2 separate regions of the Homo sapiens genome follow, and region 2 is linked to region 1. Evidence: fine-mapped expression QTL. A gene starts in region 1. The other region holds a variant in brackets. All regions are shown on one strand. Distances are between the middles of the regions. Region 1 holds the start of TOR1AIP2 (torsin 1A interacting protein 2). Region 2 overlaps TOR1AIP2 (torsin 1A interacting protein 2).

The links.
Region 2: its variant is fine-mapped to the expression of TOR1AIP2 in lung (TOPMed, PIP above 0.99).

The regions. Positions count from the first base shown.
Region 1 is chr1:179,872,273-179,884,557 of GRCh38, reverse strand. It overlaps TOR1AIP2 (torsin 1A interacting protein 2), which reads left to right and starts at 6,755. Exons shown (of 7, transcript NM_001199260.2): 1 at 6,755-6,865; 2 at 7,185-7,319. TOR1AIP1 (torsin 1A interacting protein 1) reads right to left here and starts at 2,273. Exons shown (of 10, transcript NM_015602.4): 1 at 1,581-2,273. The coding sequence starts at 2,055. It overlaps LOC139427322, which reads right to left and starts at 2,242. Exons shown (of 1, transcript NM_001436163.1): 1 at 2,165-2,242. The coding sequence starts at 2,242. The coding sequence ends at 2,165. RefSeq lists enhancers at 1,567-2,326, 1,831-2,368, 2,347-2,456, 2,369-2,907, 6,421-6,780 and 2 more.
Region 2 is chr1:179,837,026-179,849,310 of GRCh38, reverse strand. It overlaps TOR1AIP2 (torsin 1A interacting protein 2), which reads left to right. Exons shown (of 7, transcript NM_001199260.2): 6 at 1,675-1,776; 7 at 2,483-9,335. The coding sequence ends at 3,240. Among named protein-coding and RNA genes, the nearest start is that of LINC02818, 6.6 kb to the right of the region's middle. The variant G/A (reference allele first, on the strand shown) is at 6,016.

The sequences.
Region 1 (12,285 bases):
TTTACCAAAACTTAGGAAATATACCAGTCAGAACTCCTCTTGAGACAGAATACAATGAATTCAACAGAATATAATAATATTTGCCATTGTTGTTTTACAAAAATATATTACTTCAGAAAATCAAAAAGATGGGGTAGAGAGTCACAAATGATGTGGAAGAAAGCAGAAGAGTGAAAAATGTTTAGATCCTTAAAGATTTAATAAAATAGGGGTAAATTCTTTACTTGTTAAAAAAAAGTTAGCCTGTATAACTGCACTAGGCTCTGTGGAACTCAATACAATGTAACATATTTTTTGCCTACCATGTACAAAGCATTCTTCCAGGTACTGAAAAATACTGAATTAAACCAAGTACTTAAATTACTATCAAATATATTATAGGCTCCTTGTCTGCAAAAACTTTGTAATCTTAAAAGAGATAAAACTAACACATATATGGGCTAAACTGTCTTCAGTTGCTACACCCAAAAATAACTGACATAACTTTAACATAAAGTTTCCAAAATCAAGTCTTCAAATCTGTCAGTACCTTCACGAGTCAGCAGGTAAACTTGCAGCCTATCACCGTGCTCTAAGCTGAAAACCCACTCCTCCGCCTATCAATAGTCTACCACAAACTATGTCATCCCATTGTGACTCAGGTCCGCTGATTTTTACCTCACAGGTGCCTTACATGGGATTAACATGAAACTTCATCTGTGACTCAGTGTTAGGTCCTAAAATGGGGGGGGCAGGGTGGGAGAGGATAGATTAAGGAAACTGATTCACCTATGACTTACCTAACACTATACACTCACTTTGTCAGCATCCCTTTTGTCCATTTAGACGAAAACTCTAATTAATAGTCTTGTTTTTCAGGTTACTTTGTCAGTCTGATTTGCCAGACTACTTGAGGTTACAGTGACGGCCACCAAAGTGGCAGATTTTTGGCAGGGACCACCACACTGGAGAAACAGCAATCAGCTCAAGTTATCAAACACTGGGGAACATCAGTTCAGGAAAAATGAGTTACCCCATTTCGGTGAAAGTATTGGGTGAGGTCTCAAATCAATTCACTAAACTCAGCAATCCCTCGAAATGCCCACTCACAAAATTTCTCCTTCCTCTCTGCCCACCTGGGTGAGGAGGGAAAAAGACTGAAAGGTTAGATCCTCAGCTGGGGACTCTGGCCCGCGAGCGTTAAAGAAGGAAATGGAAGTGGTTTCTGTAGAAACATCCGCAGGGTAGAGGGAACCGAAATGAAACCGACCCTGCAGTAATTCGCTGTCCCCTCGTGAAGGCCTGCAGAAAAAGGCAGCTCTGACTCCCCTAAATTGATGCCCGATGTTGGGCAGAGCGCCCCAGCCCTGCCCGGGTCGCTCCACACGACCATCTTTCCACTCCTCCGGTCGGCGCTTCCTTCCCCGCTGCGGGTCAGGGTGGCCCTTGCACGGCGGCACAAGTCCAGAGGGGGCTGAGGAATACCCTTTAGCCAATCCCAGTACTTAGTACCCAGGCGGGCATGAGCTCCACCGAGGCGCGCGCCCGCCCCCGCGCGTTCCCTGGCTCGCGGCTGGGACTGTTACCTCCGCGGTCCTCACCTTCAGAGGAATGAGAGTCCCGCAGCCCTCTCCTGGTCATAACAGGAGACGGCTGTAGCGGAGGCTGCTCTGAGTGCTGCTGCTGAAGGCGGGTAGTCCTTCGCGTCTTCATTTCCTCGGTTTCCTGGGGTCGCGGCTGCCTCCGCTGCCTAGACCGAAGGTAGTACGCGCTTTCTCTCACTTCCTCTTTCGCAGAATCGGACCGGAACTCTTCTAGCCGGGTTCGTTTTCCCACCGGGGACCTTTCTTTGGCCACCAGGGGCTCGAAGTCGCCGTACACTTCTGGCGGCTCGTCCGAGAACCTCACTTCCCGCCGGCCCTGGCGCGACGGAGGAGTTCTGTACGCAGGCGCATCGCTGCTGCCGCCATTTTGAGGGGCGAGCCGGCCCCTTCCCTCTCGGATGGGGGCCCTGGGGGTGACGTACACACCCCATCCTTCCCGCACCGCCTCTGCCCGCCGCCCGTCGCCCGCCATAGTTGTTGACGTAGCTTTAGTCGATCGCGAAGATGGCTTTATGGACCCTAGGTTCTCCTGCCGGTGGTGGCGATGGCTTCTCGGGGGTGTTGGGCGGTGGCCGCTGTGGTCAGGGAGGCAGTTGCGAGTCGCTGGGGCCGCCGCCTGCGTCGTCGCTGCTGTGTAGCAAACCTGCCTCTGGGCCCATGGTGTGTCTTGAGGGCTGTGAGAGAGGCAGTGCCTGAGCTGGGTCAGCTGCTGTGGATCGCTCCCGCCTCCTGGCTGGAGGCACCAAAGAGGAGGAGAAGGGGGAGGAGGACGTCTCTGCCATCGCCCTTAAGTAAAGGAGGGGTGGGGGCGATAGAAGGATGGCAGGGCAACTTGCCTGTCCTAAGTCTAGCCGCTCGTGGCAAGTGTTGACTGCGTGTAGGAGACTCCCGTCCTATCTCCCAGTACCAAGTCTCGGGGAAAAGGAGTGCGACGAGGGTGGAGAAGACCCAAGTTTCGCTTCTCGGCCCCAGGCTGTTGCGCAGTTTCCCTGGAATCTTTTTGATCGACTGCTACGTTGACCATGTCCTTCCCAGTGTCCTTAGCAGGAGTGATGGCCAGAGAGAGAACTTTTGCACATGCCATGTTTTCGTGGCAAAAATTTTAGTTTCAAGTACCTTATGAGGGCGGTTACCTAGTTTTGAATTTTGTCACTTGTTGAGGGTGTACAAAATCCTATCTAGAGTCATACTCGTTGGATGTATTTTCTTTTCCGAAATGTACCCATAGGACACATAACCTTATTCCTGGTCTTTAATATTTCTCGGTTTTATACCAAGCAGCAGTGTTCGGAAGACCATGTTAGTGCTACATTGTGCACAGTGAGAAATGAACAAGTTTTTTAATTAAAGACAGCACTGTAATTTTAAGTTGTGATCCATTATTTTTACTTTTATTCTGGATGTGACGTGATACTCTACATTTGATTTAGAATGCTTTATGGACTTTATGGAATAAGAAAGCATGGTAAAATCTATTTGTTTCACCTCCTTATACAAATGTTTACAGATGTGGCTAATCTGCAAATACCTAACCAAATTTAGACACATTCAGAGAAGGTCGATTAAGTTCGTGTAAAGTCTGAATAATTATTGAAAGAAAGCTTAAATTGCCTTCAAATATACAACTGCTTGTAGGGCTTTGTATGATTGGAGTGAATAGATTTAAAAAATTGTAATTTGGATACCAGTTACAATGAGCGATTCTGAAAAGTTTGAAGGTGTTTGTTTATTCTTCCAAGTAATCACCTTAAAATGTTTTTGAGCAACTCATTTGTTGCTCAAACTTGGCACAAATTTCAACTACTTAAGTCGTAATGTGTACTATGTTTTTATTTTATTTTTATTTTTATTTTATTTTTTTTGAGACGGAGTCTTGCTCTGTCACCCAGGCTGGAGTCCAGTGGCGCGATCTCGGCTCACTGCAACCTCTGCCTCCCGGATTCACGCCATTCTCCTGCTTCAGCCTCCCCAGCAGCTGGGACTACAGGCGCATGCCGCCACGCCCGGCTAATTTTTTTGTATTTTTAGTAGAGACAGGGTTTCACCGTGTTAGCCAGGATGGTCTCGATCTCCTGACCTCGTGATCCGCCTCTCGGCCTCCCAAAGTGCTGGGATTACAGGCGTGAGCCACCCTGCCCGACTGTGTACTATGTTTTTACTAATATTGTCCATAAATTTGGCCACAGGCAGGAGGAATTACAGTTTTAGAGTGAGATAAGGTTTGGCCTGTTAGGAGCTTAGTTTACTGTAGCTTTATGTACAATATAGCTTTTAAAAACTGCAGTAACAAAAGAGAGACTTCTTTCTTTCTTTTCTGTCTCTCTTTCTTCTTTCTTCTTGTCTTTTAAGGAAAAATGAAAAGGATACTCTTCCTTGTCAGTCTGGATTAGATGGTATATTTCGGAAATTAGCTAGATTTACTCTTCCAACAAAATGCTCAAAAGTATTGATATGGTAATACGTGGCTTTTATTTATGTTTTAAGCAGGGCTTTCTCTTTAAAGTGGCTATTACATTACTCATTAGTAACACAATAGTATAAGTTCCTTAATAGATTTAATTATTAAATATAAATTTTATAGTAATATATTGAGTTCATATTATGAACATTAAAGTCTCCTTGAAACATTTTACCAAGACAGATGACTATGTAGAAACTGGGATACTAGCTTATAAAACTTGGATACAGGCTTGTAAAACTTAGGTTTGAGGGACAAATTAAAAAAGAGACAAGAGATTCTACATATTGAACAATCAGAGGAGAGGTTCTGCATATTATTGAATAATCAGAATATGCATATTTTGTAATTAAAACTGCTTGTAAAGGCTTAGGAATGGCCTTTCAACTAAATTAATGAGACACTTACTGTAAAATTAGAGGTATGGTAACTTTAATGCTAACACACACACACACACACACACACACACACACATATATATATGCATCGGATTTTCCCTCTCATCTAGGTTGTAAGCATAAGGAAACCTACCTCTACTGTGACTGCCTCCTTCACCTAGAAACCTTACAGATACGAAACTTTCATCACTAGCTCTGAGGCAAAGCTAAACTGTTATGAAACTAGATACTCTGCTGTAGCTATTATCCAGACTATAAGAGTGGCTGAAAAGAGGTGACATTACAGTGACAGTAGAGTCATAGCCAATATTATAAGGGATGCGCTGGGCCACTAAAAAAGGATGCCTCAGCTCTGGATATTAAAGTTACTTTGGGAATTTGAGAAATCTGGAGGAATTCAGTGACCCAAAAAAGAAGACCGGTAAGAAAAGAAATGATTAAAACAAAGAATACACTTAATAATTCATTTACTTATCAAACGTGTGCCAGCAATGAGGAAGACTATCTTTAGGGAATTTGTCATTTATTGGGAACGACAGAAACACGAAAAATTACAATTCAGATTAAATGGCATTAATTCACACACTTAACTATTAGGGCTAGGTCTGGAAATCCTGTGCTCTTGAGACTGGGTTCCTAAATCAGTTATTTTATTTCATTTTTAATTAATTTATTTATTTAGAGACGGAGTCTCGCTCTTTCGCCTAGGCTGGAGTGCAGTGGTGCAATCTCGGCTTACTGCAGCCTCCCCCAACTCCAGGTTCAAGTGATCCTCCTGCCTCAGCCTCCCGAGTAGCTGGGATTACAGGTGCCTGCCACCATGCCCAGCTAATTTTTGTATTTTTAGTAGACATGGATTTTGCCATGTTGGCAAGGCTGGTCTTGAACTCCTGACCTCAGGTGATCCATCCGCCTTGGCCTTCCAAAGTGCTGGGATTACAGGTGTGAGCCACCACGCCTGGCCAAAATAATTATTTTAAATGAAACATTTTAGAACAATAAATTTTTTGTACAGGAACTTTTTGCTTTAGGGTAAGCAGAAGTTCATTTATTTAAAGAGATAAATCTATCCGTTGTGACTTAGTAGTACAAATGAAGTAGGCAAACAATTTTAATAAGGAAAAGATGATTAAAATATTAAACAGGAGGAAGTTAATTAAAGACATAGTAGCTGGCTCCATTTATTCCCCAGTCTTACAAATGATAGAAAAATATTTTAATGACAATACAAATGAAAATTCCTGGAAATGTTATACTGAAATTAATTAAACACAATAAAGTGAATGGAATATAGTATTCTTTTTGTTGAATTAGGACTTGCAGTTAATTATTAAACACCATCCAAGAGTGTTACCAAATCCTGTCACTTCTGCCAAGAGAGGGTGATTGAGAAGTGAAGGCACCAAAAATCACATTAAATGAGGAATTATTAATTCAATAAATACTTGAGCTACTGTGTAGTAGGCAGTCCCTGTTCTCTGTGCTGGGGATACAGCAGTGAACAAAATAGACTAAAAGACAAAAAATGTTTCCTGCCTTCTTGGAGATTATATTCTATGGGAGGAGTCGGGCAAAAATCAAAATAAGTAAAATAGTGTGTTGGTCAGGACTGTTATGGGAAAAAAAAGAGGAAAGGGGAAGGGAGTTTTACATGAATAGATTTCTTCTTGAAATTTGGTTAGATTTGTCCTGAATTGCTGTAGGTCAAGAACAGGAATTTTAGACTTACTTCATTTTTCCCCCAACAAATTGTATGTTCTTGGGTAAATTGCTCGCCATCTCTTAATTTTCACATTTATAAAATTAGTAGATCAAAACAGCTATTTTTTGTCACTACTGTCATTTAACAGAAATGCTGCATACGTCATCTAATCTACTAATAACAAACTTATGAGGTAAGTAACGTTGTCCCCATTTGACACACGAGCAAACTGAGGTTTAGATTAGGCAACTCATTGGATTACATGCTCCTCTTAATGGCACAGAGGGTGTGTTCCAGGACATGGTGCTTGCCATTATCATTTGGTACTGCTGCTCACTGTGTTGGTCCTATGAGTTTCTTCAGTCTATGAATTTCAGGTCAGGGTGGTCGACGTCTTACAGAGATGCCTGTAATCCTGTCAGCATGAGATTGCATGGGACCTCTGCGGTTTGGTCGCGCATTTACCGCGCCTGTCGCTGGGTCAGACGACCTGGCAGTAGAGGGTGAAGGATGGAGAAGGCAGAAGGCAGGGCACGGAGACTACTAGTCCCAGGATTCCACGGGCGCCTTCCGGCGGAAAGTGTTTGTCATATGGGCGGGGACCCTGGACGACATTCGGGCCGCGGCGGCCGCTGGGTGCAGCCGAGCGGTGTGGAGCGGAGAGAATACTCGAAGGGCTCTCCTGATACTAACAGTTTTACGATTTAAAACTTCGCCAGAATTTGTAAGTAAACAAAATGACTATGCAGCTTTTCCATGTTTTAGTATTGAAACTGATATCTTGAATTTTTGAAAAGGACTTTCAGAAACGGTCCCTCCCCACCCCCACCTTCGTACCGCACAAATGGTATTTTTATTTTTATTGTTTTTGAGACAGGTACTTGCCCTGTCACCGAGGCTAGAGTACAGTGGCGTGATCATAGCTCACCACAGCCTCATACTTCTGGGCTCAAGGGATCCTCCCGCCTCAGCCTCCCAAGTAGCTGGAACTACAGGCCCGCACCACCATGCCCTACTAATTACTTTATTTTTTATTTTTATAGCGACAGGGTCTCACTGTATTGCCCAGGTTGGTCTCGAACTCCTGGCTTCAAGCGATTCTCCCACCTCAGCCTCCCAAAGTGCTGGGATTACAGGCGTGAGCCACCACGCCTGGCCTCACTCAAACAGTAAACGAGGTAGGTTGGGGGTATATTTTTGTTTTGGGATAAAAAGAAACTGAATCTTATAAATATTAAATGGGTTAAGATGTGAGTAAATTTTTGGGTTTAGACTTTAAGGTGAGAAGCCGAATTATTTTAGGGTTCGAAATGTGAGTGGGAAATTTGCCTACTAGTGTAGGCGGCGATTACTCCATTCCCAACATGCCTAGGTTCTCGACATTCATAATCTTAATCCTGAAAAGATAATACTTAAAAAAAAAAAAAATTGGTGCTAAAAAGGGCAAAGTTGAAGTTTTAGTAAGACCTCCTACCATTTTGCTTACATATTATATATGTACCATTCTCCCAATTGTATTTAATACCTGATGAAAAAGTTTGTGCCTTTTCCTTCTTTTAACAAATTTCATAGTACTCTCTACTTTATGAGTAATGCTTAATTATCAGACTTTATACTGTTACACAGATCCAGAAATGAGTTACATAGATTAAACATACTGGCTTTGTTTTACCTGTCTTTAGGTTTTAACACATTTTATTTTGGATCTGTATGAGAGATCCTTTCTTTGTTTTAAGCTGTGGCAGTTATCCATGTTTTTTGAGCTTTTTTTTTTGAGCACAAGATGAGGATATAAAAGGCCAGTGGAAACATTTAATAAAAAAAGGAACTTCATGGTAGAGTAACTACAGATGTTTTTGGAAGACTTTGTGTGGATTAGAATAGTTTGAAAAACTAACATTTGTTATGAAAACTGAGTGCCTGTCTTCAGTAATGTTTATTATGCTGAACGTGCAGTCCACAACTTGATTACCTGTTTTTCTGCTGGTTTGTTACGCAACCTTGCGTGACTCATTTAAGAACTATTTTATCTAGTTTCTTTCCTAATGTAGAGGTAATGCTAGCTTGAGAGCTTCAATAATTTATAAATAAATTAACTTCAGAATGTAGCTAATTATTTGAGGATTATTGGGTGTTTTAATAATGTATTGTATCTTGTATATAACTTATTTTTGCCTAAGAAGTAATTTCTGTATTCCATTCATTTCCATGGAACACAGAAGTCAAAATTCTATTCCAGGAAAGTCCACACTTCTTTGAAGTGCCACTTGAATTTCCTGAAGGAATGTTTGCTTCAAAAAGCCTTGTCTGCTTTATCACTTTGAGGTTGTTCACTAAGTCAACTGTGAAGGCCCATAAACTTGGAGATTCGACAACTTCCAAAAAAATTTAAAGAATGAAGAATTGGCTGTTTTATTTACCATTTAGAATTTTGATTGTGTTAAAATTTCATTAATATTTCTACATCATATGAACTACTGGATTAAACTGTGTCCTACAAGAAGGAATTCATAGGGCGATCATATATTACCATAAATTTTGCACAGAAATCAAGCACTTGGGAATAAGGAAGCGTGTCCCTAACATTGGTAATGAGCATAGACTGGAGTCATAGCTGGGTTTGAATTCCTATTTTGTTACTGTGTGGGCTGTTTTCCTCTTTACTAATATTTAAAGGAGCTGGCACATGATTTTTTTTTTTTTGGTGCCATGGCTCTGGTATGAACTGTGCACATAATTTTGGTAATCGAAATTTCTGGGAAGAAAATTCACCTATAACTCCACTACCTCAACAAATCAAATTGTTTGATTTTTAGAGATTTTCCTTCAGCCCTTGACCATGAGTATCTATCATGTAAATGTAATGACATTTTTGGAAAAAGTCAAATTTTGAAACATTGGTGTCTTCTGGGGTTTTAATTATATAAATGAAGCTGTCTGGTTTTGCCTTTAATAGTTCAAATAATAATTATTTACGGTTTTTGAGGACTTCTTTTGTGCCCCTGTGGTTGCCAGTATTGCACATTATCTCATTTGATCTTCACACTGCCTCTTTCATCTAAGTACTATTATTCCATTTTGTAATTAAGAAAACCAAGGAAAAAATTAGCCAGGGGCTGGGTGCAGTGGCTCACGCCTATAGTCCCAGCACTTTGGGAGGCCAAGGTGGGTGGATCACTTGAGGTCAGGAGTTTGAGACCAACCTGGCCAACATGGTGAAACCCTGTCCCTACTAAAAATACAAAGAAATTAGCTGGGCGTGGTGGCGGGCACCTGTAATCCCAGCTTCTCGGGAGGCTTGAGGCAGGAGAATCATTTGAACCTGGGAGGCGGAGGTTACAGTGAGCTGAGTACGCGCCATTGCACTCCAGCCTGGGCGACAGAGCGAGACTCCATCTCAAAAACAAAACAAAAAACAAAGAAAACCAAGGGCATAGAGAGAGAGAGAGAAACACCAAGTCAGAAGCTGGAGCAGTCATTCAGGTCTAGGCAGTCTGACCTTAGAGGATAGTGCTATATTGGGTTCTATATTTGTAGATTTGCTTTATGGATGTTAGGTCATATTTGTAGATTGGACTTGATCCTGGAGGCTGACTTATAACTTTCTTTGTATAAAAGTAACAGTATTTACAGTTTTTTGTTTGTTTCTTTTTTGAGATAGGATCTCTCTCTCTTATCCAGGCTGGAGTGCAGTGGCACAATCACGGCTCACTGCATCCTTGACCTCCCAGTCTCAAGTGATCCTCCTACCTCAGCCTTCCAAGTAGCTGAGACTACAGGCACACACCACCATACCTGACTAATTTTTGTATTTTTTGTATGAACAAGGTCTCGATATGTTGCCTAGGCTGGTCTCTGAACCGTTGGGCTCAAGCAGTCCTCTCCTGCCTGAACCTCCTAAAAGGCTGGGATTATAGGCATGAGCCACCATACCTGACTACAGTATATTTTGAAGTACTGTATAAAGGTACTTTATAACTATTTTTTCTTTTCTTTTTCTTTTGAGACAAGGACTTGCTGTGTTGCCCAGGCTGGAGTATAGTGGCACTATCATGGCTTACTGCAAACTTGAACTCCTGAGCTCAAGCGATCCTCCCACCTCAGTCTCCCAAATAACTGAGACTGCAGGCACACACTGCCACACCCAGCTACTTTATAGTGAACACCAGAGTCATCTGGCAAATCTGTTAAAACATAAATTCCTGTAGGAGGCTCTCAGAGATTCTGGTCTAGTGGGTCTAGGTTGGGGCCTGAATTTGTACTTTTAGCAAGCTCCCAGGTAATGCTAGTGATTCCCAGCTAGTGAGTTTAATATAGTAAGGAAACAAACACTTGTTGTCCATATTGTTGACTTGATAGTTATACCCCAGTAGCACTGAGCATTCAGATCTTGGTTTTTAAAGGAACTAGGACTTTTTAGAGAAGTGGCTGATTTAGTGCGGGAGCAGAGAAAATACAAGATGAGCCTGAAAAATCTTATGGTGCTTGAAAGTAAGGAAATGCTACAAAAAGTTAGGGACCTTGTCGAAAGGACCCAAGAGCCAACTTGAAGGAGTTCCTGGTATCCAGGTTGGAACAATTTGAGCAATAAAATGAATAATGATAGTATTGGACTTTAACCCATAAAATAAAATGAGTTCATACTGATATTGCTGAGTGAATAAATAAGTAGGGGAGAAGGGACAACTCTAACAGAAGAATTCCATTTAATAAACATAGAAGGAAAGAAGGAAATACAAAACCACCATTAGGGAAACAGTACCATAGTAGTTGTTGCAGACAAAATCCAGTTAGAGGAAAATCAGAATATTTACATAGTCTCAAAGTATCTCTCCCAGGATAATTATTAACTACAAAGAAAAAATAGTAATCCGACAGTGGAGGTACTATGTTAACAAAGTGATCAAGGTTAACATCACCAGTAATGAGACAAGGACATCATGAACCCAAAGAGGCAGTGAGAAGGACACAGCGGCATTTCTGTGACGTTTGTTATTCTTGCCAAAAATGCATAATCTTTTTATCTTTCTAATCATGATAAAATATTGTAAAACTCTAAACTGAGGAACATTCTACAAAATAACTGGCCAGGTCAGGTGCAGAGGCTCATGTCTGTAATCCCAGCATTTTGGGAAGCCAAGGCAAGAGGATCGCTTGAGCCCAGGAGTTCGAGACCAGCCTAGGCAACATAGCAAGACCACGTGTCTATTTTTAAAAACAAAAAACACCGAACCCAAAATAACTGACCAGTATTCTTCAAAAGTGTCAAGGTCACAAAGACAAGAAAGGGTCACAAATGACAGGTAAAGACTGAGGAACTGTCATAGACTAGACACTAAGGAAAAATAACAACTAAAAGAAATCGTGAAATCTGAATATGGCCTCTAGTTAATTGAATTGTGCCAATGTTGATTTCTTGTTTTCGATAACTATGCTTTAATTATGTAAGATGCTAGATGAAGGATATAATGGAACTGTGTGCTATTTTTGCAACTTTTCTGTAAGTCTAAAATTAGTTCAAAATAAAAAGTTTAATAAAAATATGTTGACTTGAAGTAGATACTAAAAGTGATTAGGGAAGTTGAACTAAACCTGGCAGTCAGTTGTGCCACCCACTGTCAGAAATCTTAGCAAACTCTTAGATCCTTCGTGCATAGCTTAATACCTCTACGTGGTCAACCGAAACTAGAGATACAAGTCAAAGGAGTTGGGAGGGAGTATGAAAAAGGGTAAGTAGGAAAGGAAGGCTTTCTGCACTCAGAAAATATCTGTAGAATTTGATCTGCGCCAGGCATTCAATTCCTGTGTAAAAAACAATTCCCTAAGGAAGTAGAGTGCTTTTTGTTCCGAGGCTAGTACTTTTTCAAACTTCTTTCAAAAATCTAGAATAAGTCACCAGTTAGTGAAAATACAGAGAAACGAAAAATTGTGAAAATAATAATGCTGGGATATTATGACAGTGGATATGGTACAGAGGAGTGGGCAAGACTTAGAAATTTAGTTTTAGACAGACAATAAATAGCTAGCACAAGTTATAGAAATACCTAAGCTTGGCACCAGATCTGACTGTTGAAAGTTGTGTATTAGCCTTAAAGGTTTGGCTGCTGGTGTTTTGAAGTGAAATTGTAGACAGAATTTGGACCA
Region 2 (12,285 bases), 35 kb after region 1:
TTCAGCACTACACTCCAGCCTTGTTGACAGAGTGAGACCCTGTCTTTAAAAAAAAAAATGCAGTTTATGTATGGAAAGCAATTTAATATAGTTGAATGAGGTTATCTATACTCTAAGAGATGAGAAACTTTGTTTTCATCTCAACTTAGCTATATCTCTTTTTTTTTGTTTTTTTGAGATGGAGTCTCACTCTTTTGCCCAGGCCGGACTGCAGTGGCGCTGTCTCGGCTCACTGCAAGCTCCGCCTCCCGGATTCACGCCATTCTCCTGCCTCAGCCTCCCGAGTAGCTGGGACTACAGGCACCCGCCACCGTGCCCAACTAATTTTTTTTTTTTGTATTTTTAGTAGAGACGGGATTTCACCGTATTAGCCAGGATGGTCTCGATCTCCTGACCTTGTGATCCGCCCGCCTCGGCCTCCCAAAGTGCTGGGATTACAGGCGTGAGCCACTGCGCCCAGCCAGCTACATCTCTTTATGTGACCTTGGGCAAGATCTTTAATATCCCTGGACCTTTTTTCATGATAGGTTAAGTAATGGGGCCGGAGTAGGTGTCCATTATAGATCCTTTCAGTTCTTAGATTCTATGATATGATATTTTAAGAACCTACTCTTTGGGGTGATAGGAACAATCCTTTATAAGTGAAGATGATCCTACTCATCTATGCTAATAGAAGTACCTGGCTGGGGTTAAGCACAAATTTAGATTCTAGTGTGATTTAGCTTAGAGTGCTAAAAATTGTTGCCCTTCTTTTCACCCACATATTTTAAGCTTGGCATGCCCTCCCTACATCTGGATTTTTACATATTTCGTGAATTTTCTTCACCTTATATTCCTTGCTTTGTATATCTCCTTCACTAAGAGTTTCAAATTTGCTTCTGTAAGCTATTTTGCAACTGTACACTAATCTCTCCTATCTTAGAACTTAGTGCCTCTGTTATTTTTATATTCGGGGTCTTGAGGAACCATGTGAAACTCGAACACTGGAATTAGAGCACAATTACCCTGTGAAGTTGAATCTTGTGTACAGCCAACATTTCTTAAATCCCTTCTTGATTTTATACATTTTGCTGAATTACATTTTAGGTAAGTTTGGCCGCACTATTTAAATGTCTTTGTCTTTGATATAAGAGGCAGTAAGGAATTGTGAATATAGCAACATTATCCTTGAATGAATTTCACAGTATTTCATTTTATCCTTCTAAGTAGAATAAAAGTAATAGTCTTAAAGAAAAGACAGGAAAAATGTTAACTTTGGTTTTTTTTTTTTTTTTTTCTGAGATGGAGTCTTGCTCTGTCCCCCAGGCTGGAGTGCAGTGGCACGATGTCGGCTCACTGCAACCTCCACCTCCCAGGTTCAAGCGATTCTCCTGCCTCAGCCTCCCACGTAGCTGGGATTACAGGCGCCCGCCATCATGCCCGATAATTTTTGTATTTTTAGTAGAGACAGGGTTTCACCTTGTTGGCCATGCTGGTCTCAAACTCCTGACCCCAAGTGAGCCACCTGTTTCAGCCTCCCAAAGTGCTGGGATTACAGGCATGAGCCACCGTACCTGGCCAAGGTATAGAAAGCCTTTTAGTCAAATCATTCTTTGGTTTGGTGAGAGATATAAAGGTATACATACTGTCATTAGTGTACTGCCTAAAAATAATATTGATTCTTTTCCTCTCCAGAGGCTGGAAGTCATCCACAACAAACACAAAAATTGGAAGAAATTAAAGAGAATGCACAGGACACCATGAGACAGATTAATAAAAAGGGTTTTTGGAGCTATGGTGAGAACAAACCTGGTTTTACTGCAGTGTTGATTCACTTTCAGAAATCCTCAGTGAAAATGCCTAGAAAACTAGCAGATTTAAACAGTTTTAACATTGTGTTTATATATACTTATTTAATGATTGGTAGTGAGACATAGTAAAATAGTACACTAGAGTTTTAGGGATTTTTCCCTTACGGGTGCTGGCTGATATTTTGCTGTGCTTAACAAAATGGAATTTCTCACAATAGGAAAGGCTTTTCCTAAACAAGAAACAAAAACTGCCTTTCTAATTAGAGAATATTAATTTTTCAAGTGCACTTTAAAGTTATGACTCCTAAAAAAATGGTCGGCTATAGGTAGTAGGTGCATTGAGAAGATGAAAAAAAATCTTGATCACTCATGTCTAAATTACATCATTAGTTATAATAACAAATACATAGACTCAGCTTTTACCTTTTATTTTTAAAAATTTTTTACCGAGTACTTAACTCTTCCACGTAGCTTTTATCTTTTAACAGATATATCTTCAAATAATTAAATCTGAGAAGAGATTAGAGAAAAGGTACTTCTGGTGGATTGAAAGTTTAAACAATTTATGCAAAAGAAACTTATTGCTCCTAGTAAAACCTGCTGGTATCTCTGCCTCATTTCAGTTTACCACAGGCTTTGTTTCTGGCTCGTGTTCTCTGTAATTTTCTATTCCTTTTTCATTCTTTTGACAGGCCCTGTGATTCTTGTCGTCCTGGTTGTGGCTGTTGTGGCAAGTTCTGTGAATAGCTACTATTCCTCTCCAGCCCAGCAAGTGCCCAAAAATCCAGCTTTGGAGGCCTTTTTGGCCCAGTTTAGCCAATTGGAAGATAAATTTCCAGGCCAGAGTTCCTTCCTGTGGCAGAGAGGACGGAAGTTTCTCCAGAAGCACCTCAATGCTTCCAACCCCACTGAGCCAGCCACCATCATATTTACAGCAGCTCGGGAGGGAAGAGAGACCCTGAAGTGCCTGAGCCACCATGTTGCAGATGCCTACACCTCTTCCCAGAAAGTCTCTCCCATTCAGATTGATGGGGCTGGAAGGACCTGGCAGGACAGTGACACGGTCAAGCTGTTGGTTGACCTGGAGCTGAGCTATGGGTTTGAGAATGGCCAGAAGGCTGCTGTGGTACACCACTTCGAATCCTTCCCTGCCGGCTCCACTTTGATCTTCTATAAGTATTGTGATCATGAGAATGCTGCCTTTAAAGATGTGGCCCTGGTCCTGACTGTTCTGCTAGAGGAGGAAACATTAGAAGCAAGTGTAGGCCCAAGGGAAACGGAAGAAAAAGTGAGAGACTTACTCTGGGCCAAGTTTACCAACTCTGACACTCCCACCTCCTTCAACCACATGGACTCAGACAAATTGAGTGGGCTGTGGAGCCGAATTTCACACCTGGTACTGCCAGTCCAGCCAGTGAGTAGCATAGAAGAACAGGGGTGCCTTTTCTAAAGCTAAGCACAGAGTTGGTTACAGAAGGTATATGTTTATGAAAAAGTTTGTTTAAAGACCTTCCATTTATATGGAAGGAGGTTGATAAAATAGCTTGAGGAAATAGCCTGAAAAACAAAGATGAGCTTATTTTAGAAACAAGTTTTTATTTTTTATTCCTTGTAAAATCTTTCTAATCTAAGCCTTGACAAAGCTAAAAATTAACCTGACTTTTTTTCTTTGGACCAAATCAGGTTTGAAATATCGATGATATATATGAGAATTTTTTTTAAATTCTAAAATATAGCAACATTGCACAGGAAGATACTCTTACTTCTTAGAGTAACTACAGAGTGATTTTTTTTTTTTCTTGAGTGAGACTCTGAAGAACCTTTTCGATAATGTTTGGACTTGGACTAAAGCAATTAGAATTATGAAGCAATGATAACCTTTAGAAAATTTTTCTATCACATGTTGAATATTTTCAAACCTTACTTTAATAATCTAAAGTTACGGGATTATATCTTATATTAATTTTGCAGTTTTGAGTAGTATGATAAAAGAAATAAGAATTCAAACCATTAAGTACCTACCTAAATACTACATGTAAGGCACTGTGCTTTTATTTCATTCAGCTGAGGTATAAGCAGCTGTACTCAAATGTTCTTAAAAATGAGAACCAGTGGGGAAATTGTTTATAATCATTGGAAATGAAGAAATTCCAATTGGCTATATCTTTACTTCAGCTTTTCTTGAACAATTTACAGCATTGATTTTCAAACTGTGTCTACTGGCACCCTTCCCCTTTGTATCAGAGCAGTTCTGCTTTTAACTGTTTTATATGTTGGGGTTCTCTATGAGATTTCATTGGAACAAAGAGTTTCACTGATATTCGAGTTTGAAAACCATTGATTAAGTGAAAAAACATCTTAGAAGATAGGAAATATGTTTAAAAAATGAATGTATTAAATCTTATGAGTAGGAAGATGAAATACAGGTTTATTGTATAGATACATTATTTATGAAGGATAAAGATCTATACATGAACAGCAGAATGTATAAGCTAGCATTTACTAGCATGTCTCTGATGCTTTTGTTCATTTCTGTTAATCGTCATTTCTGTCCCCTCTGCATGGAATTTTATACTTGTCTAGGGTAAGAGTTTGTAGACTCTTTCAGCAGAACAGATTTTAATAACCAATTTATTTGTTTTATTTTAAAAATTTATTTTTGAATAACCAATTTAATAGTAAATTTTATATGAACATTTGGCATAACTTTACCAGTTTATTTCTATGCAGTGATGGAACATTATGTAATGCAGCTCATTTCTTGACCAACTAGTTATAGAAGTACCATTAGGTTAAAAATTAGAGAAATCTAAGAGATGTTATACTTAGTGAGAGGAAGCAGAAATGGTGGGTAGATTCTCAGAGGTTTTGATGTTCAGTACTGACGGACCATGTTCTGTGATTGTAAGAAAGATTGAAAACAGTTTGTATGGAGATAGAGTTGATTAGCATTTGAGCTCTGAAAGCAGAACTCTAGTAAAATGATCTCGACCTAACAAAGGGTCTGTTCCATTATATAGACTATTACCATAATCCTGGATTATTTCAACTGGGTTTTGGCCTCTCCATTATATGAGATCATATGTATATAGCTAAGAAGTCTGATTAAAGTATGGAAAGATTTTAGGAAACACTAAGAAGATACAGGGATCTTTACTGATACCTAAAAAGATTACAATTGAGTAATTGCTCAATTGAGTGTAGGGGCATACCTGAAGGAAGAATTTGCATTTGGGACTTCGAAGGAAGCTTCCAAGAGATTTGGGAAGAGACCTGAACAAAAAGTTAAAGCATGGTGAATGTGATATCACTGTCAATCCAGTATAAAAGCAGAGGAAGTTGAAGGAAAATCTGTATCCCATATGCACATTTTTTCTGTCTTTTTAGATCTTAGATGCTAGCGTTACATCCACAAAACCAGTGTTGCCTTGTATAACTATTATATTGGCCTGCTGACCTGTGCTACCTCAGATCTGTCAAGGAACCAGTATGTCGCATATTCTTGTTTCTTCATTCAGTTGAATATGGTTTTTCATCATTTCTCTTCAAAATAATTTAGAAAAATAAATTTCTAAAGTCATAATTTTTAATTTAGCCTTTTTAAAAACATTTTCCCTTCCATGTATAGTGCAATCAATTGAGGGTGTTGTCAGTTTTCTGTCTGCTATTTCAAAAGTCTTTTTTTTTTTTTTTTTTTTTTGAGATGGAGTCTCACTCTGACTCCCAGGCTGCAGTGCTGTGGCTTGATCATAGCTCACTGTAGCTTTAAACTCCTGGGCTCAAGCAATCCTCCCACCTTAGCCTCCTGAGTAGCCGGGACTACAAGTGCAGACTACCACACCACTCTACCACACTATTTTGTATAGAGACAGGGTCTTACTGTGTTGCCTAGGCTGGTCTTGAACTCCTGGCCTCAAGTGATCCTCCCACCTCAGCGTCCCAAAGTGTTTGGATTACAGATGTGACCCAATGCACCCAACCAAACTTCTTTTTTTTTTTTTTTTTTTTTTGAGAGAAGGTCTTGCTCTGTCACCCAGGCTGGAATGCAGTGCAGTGGCACAATCTCATCTCACTGTAACCTACACCTCCTGGGTTCAAGTGATTCTTGTGCCTCAGCCTCCCAAGTAGCTGGGATTACAGGCATGCACCACAATGCCCAGCTAATTATTGTATTTTTAATAGAGACGAGGTTTTGCTATGTTGTCCAGGTTGGTCTCGAACTCCT[G/A]GCCTCAATTGATCCGCCTGCCTTGGTCTTTCAAAGTGCTAGGATTATAGGCACGAGCCACTGCACCTGGCCTCAAAAATCATTTTTAAAAGAAGCAGTATATTAGCTCTGGGTCTTCTCATGACTAAAATGACTATTTTTAAACATAAGACCATATTTTATAAATGTACAGATAATTCAAATCTATTATCTAATGTATTAGGTTAATTTCTATTTGTTCTATACTTTTTTTTTTTTTTTTTTTTTTGAGATGGAGTCTTGCTCTGTTGCCCAGGCTGGAGTGCAGTGGTGCAATCTTGGCTCACTGCAAGCTCCGCCTCCTGGGTTCATGCCATTCTCCTGCCTCGGCCTTCCAAGTAGCTGGGACTACAGGTGCCCGCCCCGACACCTGGCTAATTTTTAAAAAAATATTTTTAGTAGAGACAGGGTTTCACCGTGTTAGCCAGGATGGTCTCGATCTCCTGACCTCGTGATCCGCCCGCTTTGGCCTCCCAAAGTGCTGGGATTACAGGCGTGAGCCACCGCACCCGGCCTATTGACATTTTTTAAGGTTTCAGATTTTCTTTTGTGTGTCTAGTAATTCGTCTTTTATTGTCAAAGATAATTTGCTTATTTGACTTAGAAAAATGATTTGTGGGCATACAATATTGTATGTGGTACCTAAACGTTGCCATTTAGTTACTCTTACAGAACAACTTTCATTACACTGTATATTAATATAAATTACTTCTTGAGTAATCCCAGAATTGTAGAACCAATTGGTAGAATCAGAAACTGTCTTTGGACTTGAGGTTTTTCTTCCCTTAGGGTAAATTTTAGGTTTTCTGGTTAGTTTCCAGGAGTTGGCGGACAAGTTCATATCACTAAAGGTGTTCATATCACTAAAATAGTAATGCTAATTTGTTTCATATTTCTATTTTAAAAAGCAATCAATAAAGACATTTCAATACATTTCATTTGGAAGCCCCCAAGTGTATGGTGGTTAATAAGGCTCAGCATGCTGGTAACCCACCATTCTCTTAGCTAGTGACTCCACTAAATAGTGCTAGCCGCTGAGATGGTTTTGACCCTTTAACAGCCTTTTTTTTTTTTTGAGACAGAGTTTCACTCTTGTTATCCAGGCTGGGGTGCAATGGTGCGATATCTCGGCTCACTGCAACCACTGCCTCCCAGGTTCAAGCGATTCTCCTGCCTCAGCCTGCCAAGTAGCTGGATTACAGGCACGTGCCATCACGCCCAGCTAATTTTTGTATTTTTGGTAGAGACGGGGTTTCCCCACGTTGACCAGGCTGGTCTCGAACTCCTCACCTCAAGTGATCCACCCGCCTCGGCCTCCCAAAGTGCTGGGATTACAGGCGTGAGCCACCGCGACTGGCCTACACAGCTTTTAATTGCTTGATTTATACTTTATTAAAGAGAGGAAGCACAATGAGCAGTGATACTAAAATATAACTAATATGGCATGTGAAAGTGATCATTATTCAGATGATCTTCACCAACACTGCATTTGCATATATCTGACCAAACTTTATGCGACATAGGCAGGTCTCTGGCACTTCAAAAATGAATGTTAAATAGAAAATAATAAATAATAGCTGATTAGGGTAATCATTTATTTAATCAGAATAAAGATTATATCCATAAAATTTACTTGCAGAGAAGTACTTTCTTTTTGTTTTAAAGACAGGGTCTCACTCTGTCACCCAAGCTATGGTGCAGTGGCACAATCACAGCTCACTGCAGCCTGGACCTCCTGGCCTCAAGGGGATGATCCTCCTACTTCAGGAATTATGCCACCATGCCCGGCTAGTTGAGAAGTACTTTCAAATAGCAACATGAAGCCTTTCCTTTACCATTTGAAAATAAAACATAGTTGTAAACATAAACCAGTATGTCTTTGTAAAGCCAATAATATATCATTTTATAGGAGCATTGTCTTCTTGTGTTTTTCAAGTTGACTATGTAGTTCAATGTCAGTCTCCATTTTAATATCTTGTTTGTTTATCAGCCTGAGCATATTTCATTTTAAAATGTATTTGTTGAGAAGTCATGGTGGTTTTTTGTTTTTCACAAGTCAAGTAGCTTGAACACTATCACTTGTCCAATGGGAAAGTTGATGCTTATCTTTATGGCAAATGCTTGGTTGAATAATATATTTGCAAAGATGTTAATTCTACAGAGAGCTAAATAAAGTTAAGATACCTGTAAAACAGTTTCTCCAGATGACTTTAAAATAAGCCTTATTTTTGTAAATTTATGTTAAATTTTAGGTGTTAAGTTGTGAAATACCTAATGATGTGGGCCTAAATTTGCCTCATTCAGACTGAGACAGGGCTGTTAAAATTCATTTCTAGCTAATAAACTGTGCTATAACTTCTTTATTATTATTATTATTATTATTATTATAGTTTAAGTTCTGGGATACATGTGGAGAACATGCAGGTTTGTTAACATAGGTATACACGTGCCATGGTGGTTTGCTGCACCCATCAACCCGTCATCTACATTAGGTATTTCTCCTAATGCTATCCCTCCCCCAGCCCCCCACCCCCTGACAGGCCCCAGTGTGTGATGTTCCCTGCCCTGTGTCCAAGTGTTTTCTTTGTTCAATTCCCACCTATGAGTGAGAACATGCGATGTTTGGTAAACTGTGCTATAACTTCTGTATCTCTATAGGCCAATCCAAATGGCCTGAGAACATAATCAGTATCCCCTAATCTGCAAAAAGGTAAATACCTTAGTCTTCAGTACCTTTCCTTCCAGTATTATCTGCATTATCTGTGCCCGCTTGCTGTGATGTCTTGAAAAGCCCATAAATTGGTTCTTATTTTGGCAAATGGTCTCCTGCTTTTCCTCACTGAGGCTTATAAACTAAATTTGCCTTTGGCTAAGCGCAGTTACATGAACCAAAAAGAACATTTTAGACTTGGGAAGCAACAGGCTGAGTCACATTGTATGGGGCAGAGTTGGCCAAGCCCCCGGCAGTCACAGCCCTACTCTCTGTGTTCCTTCTAGGCCTGAGGACGCATCAACACAAAGCTCCAGGCAGTTGCTCCTGGTTCATCAGAGAGCACAGGAAATTTAAATCTATTTGCCTTTCCTGTCATAAAAGAAACAGCACACTGACTTTCAAACTCAATTGCATTTTGCTTATTTGTGCTTAACAAAAAATATGTGTGCTTTGCCAATACTAACGTCCCACTTCTCTGCACTCCCTTTCTGTATAACAGGGATTGCTTTTGTATTTGTTTCTTATAGATGCTGATGATGTGCCTTATTCAGATTAGTTGGCCATTACCAGAATAAAGAATAAATCTGAATTTTTTTCAGCGGACTGATTCTTGATTAAATTTCCCAAAATAGCAGGTTTATAGAAATGGGCATGTGGTGATTAATGGTGGGAAAGGAAACTGCCCTCATATGGCAGTAAGCTGAGGAGCTAGAGAATCCTGTGAGGGTTGTCAGGTGGCATTTTGTGGCCATCAGTGAAATGGTATAGGGCAGACCCTGCCTAGAATCTGTTGCAGCTCTTGGGTAGCATTCTTCGAGTGCTATTCCTACTTAACGAAGCTTTCCTGAGTATGGGAGAAACATTGGGGTTGTAAGTAGATCCCTGGGAATTGCTGCTATCCCAGGGTGTGCTGTTGTGAGTGTGTGTGTGTGTGTTTTGAGACAAAGTCTTGCTCTGTTGCCCAGGCTGGAGTGCAGTGGTGCAATCTCCCCTCGCTGCAACCTCCGCCTCCCAGGCTCAAGCAATTCTCCTGTCTCAGCCTCCCAAGTAGCTGGGACTATAGGCACAGGCCACAGTGCTGGGCTAAATTTTTCTATTTTTAGTAGAGAAAGGGTTTCATCATGTTGTCCAGGCTGGTCTCAAACCCCTGAGCTCAGGTGATCTGCCTGCCTCGGCCTCCCAAAGTGCTGGGATTACAGGCGTGAACCACCACACCCAGCCTGTGAATGTGGTTTTTTTTTTTTTTTTTTCGAGACGGAGTCTTGCTCTGTCGCCCAGGCTGGAGTGCAGTGGCGCGATCTCGGCTCACTGCAACCTCCACCTCCCGGGTTCATGCCATTCTCCTGCCTCAGCCTCCCGAGCAGCTGGGACTACAGGTGCCCGCCACCACGCCCAGCTAATTTTTTTGTATTTTTAGTAGAGACGGGGTTTCACCGTATTAGCCAGGATGGTCTCGATTTCCTGACCTTGTGATCCACCCACCTCGGCCTCCCAAAGTGCTGGGATTACAGGCGTGAGCCACCGCGCCCGGCCGAATGTGTTTTTTAAGTGTGGATATCCCTTACCTTATGTGTTGGGAGTGGGGGAGGTGGGGGTGTGTTCAGAATTTCTGCCTTAAGATGTTGCCAAACCAGAATTACAGAGCAGAAGCACCTGAATACCCATCTCAGCCCCTCACCCACCTTCTCCCAGCTTCCTGCTCGGCCCACCCCCATCCATACCCAACTAAAACCAAAGGTCTTATTAACACATTTTATAGAAACATTTTCTAACAAATCTGAATTGAATTTTGAAAATCTGAAAGACTTGTTTTTGCAGTTTAGAAAAATAGGAACTTTGGGAGTTACCATATCTTAACATATGAGCTTTCACTGAAAAGAGCTAAAGTCAAGCGATAAGATGAGCCTGAAGGCAAAGAACACAGAATTTCCTAATACTCATTCCACAAACGTCAACAGTAGATTAGCAGCAACGAGATTTTCTTAATGCATAAACTCACCACTAGAGGATATTACATACTAGTGTTCTACCGTACACTAGAACAGGCCTCAATACTGATTAATAAGGGAGTGAGTGGCTATGAATTATTTAGTTGCTGTAGGAATTGTCATTTTAAACAGGATACAATAAAAATGATTTTAAGTCTGAAGTTGCAATTCGAGTCATAGAATGTTTGGTGCAGAAGCAGCTCCATCAAGCTAAACAGAAAAGATCTTAGCTATTGGTCCAAGGTATTATCTACTTTAAGAAAAGGAAATGAGTAGGCAGATCGTATTATGTATATGTTTAGGGCACTCATTACTGTGGAATCTGCCCACATGACTTTAGGGCTCACAGAAGGCCCCCATACACACACTAAAAATGAGACACTAGCCAGGCGTGGTGGCTCACGCCAGTAATCCCAGCACTTTGGGAGGCTGAGGTTTGTGGATCCTTTGAGCCCAGGAGTTTGACACCAGCCTGGCCAGCATGGTAAATCCCTGTCTCTAAAACAAATGCAAAAATTCGCTGAATGTGGTGGCACATGCCTGTAAGTCCCAGCTACTCAGAAGGCTGAGGTGGGAGGATCACCTGACCCTGGGGAGGTGGAGGCTGCAGTGAGCCATGATTGCACCACTGCACTCCAGCCTGGGTGACCGAGTGAGACCCTGTCTTAAAAAAAAGGCCAGGCGCAGTGGCTCATGCCTGTAATCCCAGCACTTTGGGAGGCTGATGTGGGCTGAGCATGAGGTCAGGAGTTCAAGACCAGCCTGGCCAACATGGTGAAACCCCTGCCTCTACTGAAAATACAAAAAGCCAGCCGTGGTGGTGGGTGCCTGTAATCCCAGCTACTCTGGAGGCTGAGGCAGGAGAATTGCTTCAACCCAGGAGATGGAGGTTGCAGTGAGCCGAGATGGCGCCACTGAACCCCAGCCTGGGCAACAAAGCAAGACTCCGTCTCAGGAAAAAAAAAAAGACACTTTGTCTTTTTGACCTATATCTGACACTTTCTAGGATCACTAATTCTTAAGTATACAAATCAATGTTTAAGATAAACCATTAATTCAGTAACATCTTTTATTATCATACTGAGAGGTGACAGCGTGCTGGCAGCCCTCGCAGCCCTCGCTCGCTCTCGGCGCCTCGTCTGCCTGGGCTCCCACTTTGGTGGCACTTGAGGAGCCCTTCAGCCCACCACTGCACTGTGGGAGCCCCTTTCTGGGCTGGCGGAGGCCAGAGCTGGCTCCCTCAGCTTGCAGGGAGGTGTGGAGGGAGAGGCGCGAGCGGGAACTGGGGCTGTGCGCGACAGTTGCTGGCCAGCTGGAGTTCCGGGTGGGCGTGGGCTTGGCGGGCCCCGCACTCGGAGCAGCCGGGCGGCCCTGCCGGCCCCAGGCAATGAGGGGCTTAGCACCCGGGCCAGCGGCTGCGGACGGTGTACTGGGTCCCCCAGCAGTGCCGGCCCACTGGCGCTGCACTCGATTTCTTGCCAGGCCTTAGCTCCCTCCCCGTGGGGCAGGGCTTGGGACCTTCAGCCTGCCATGCCTGAGCCTCCCCCACTC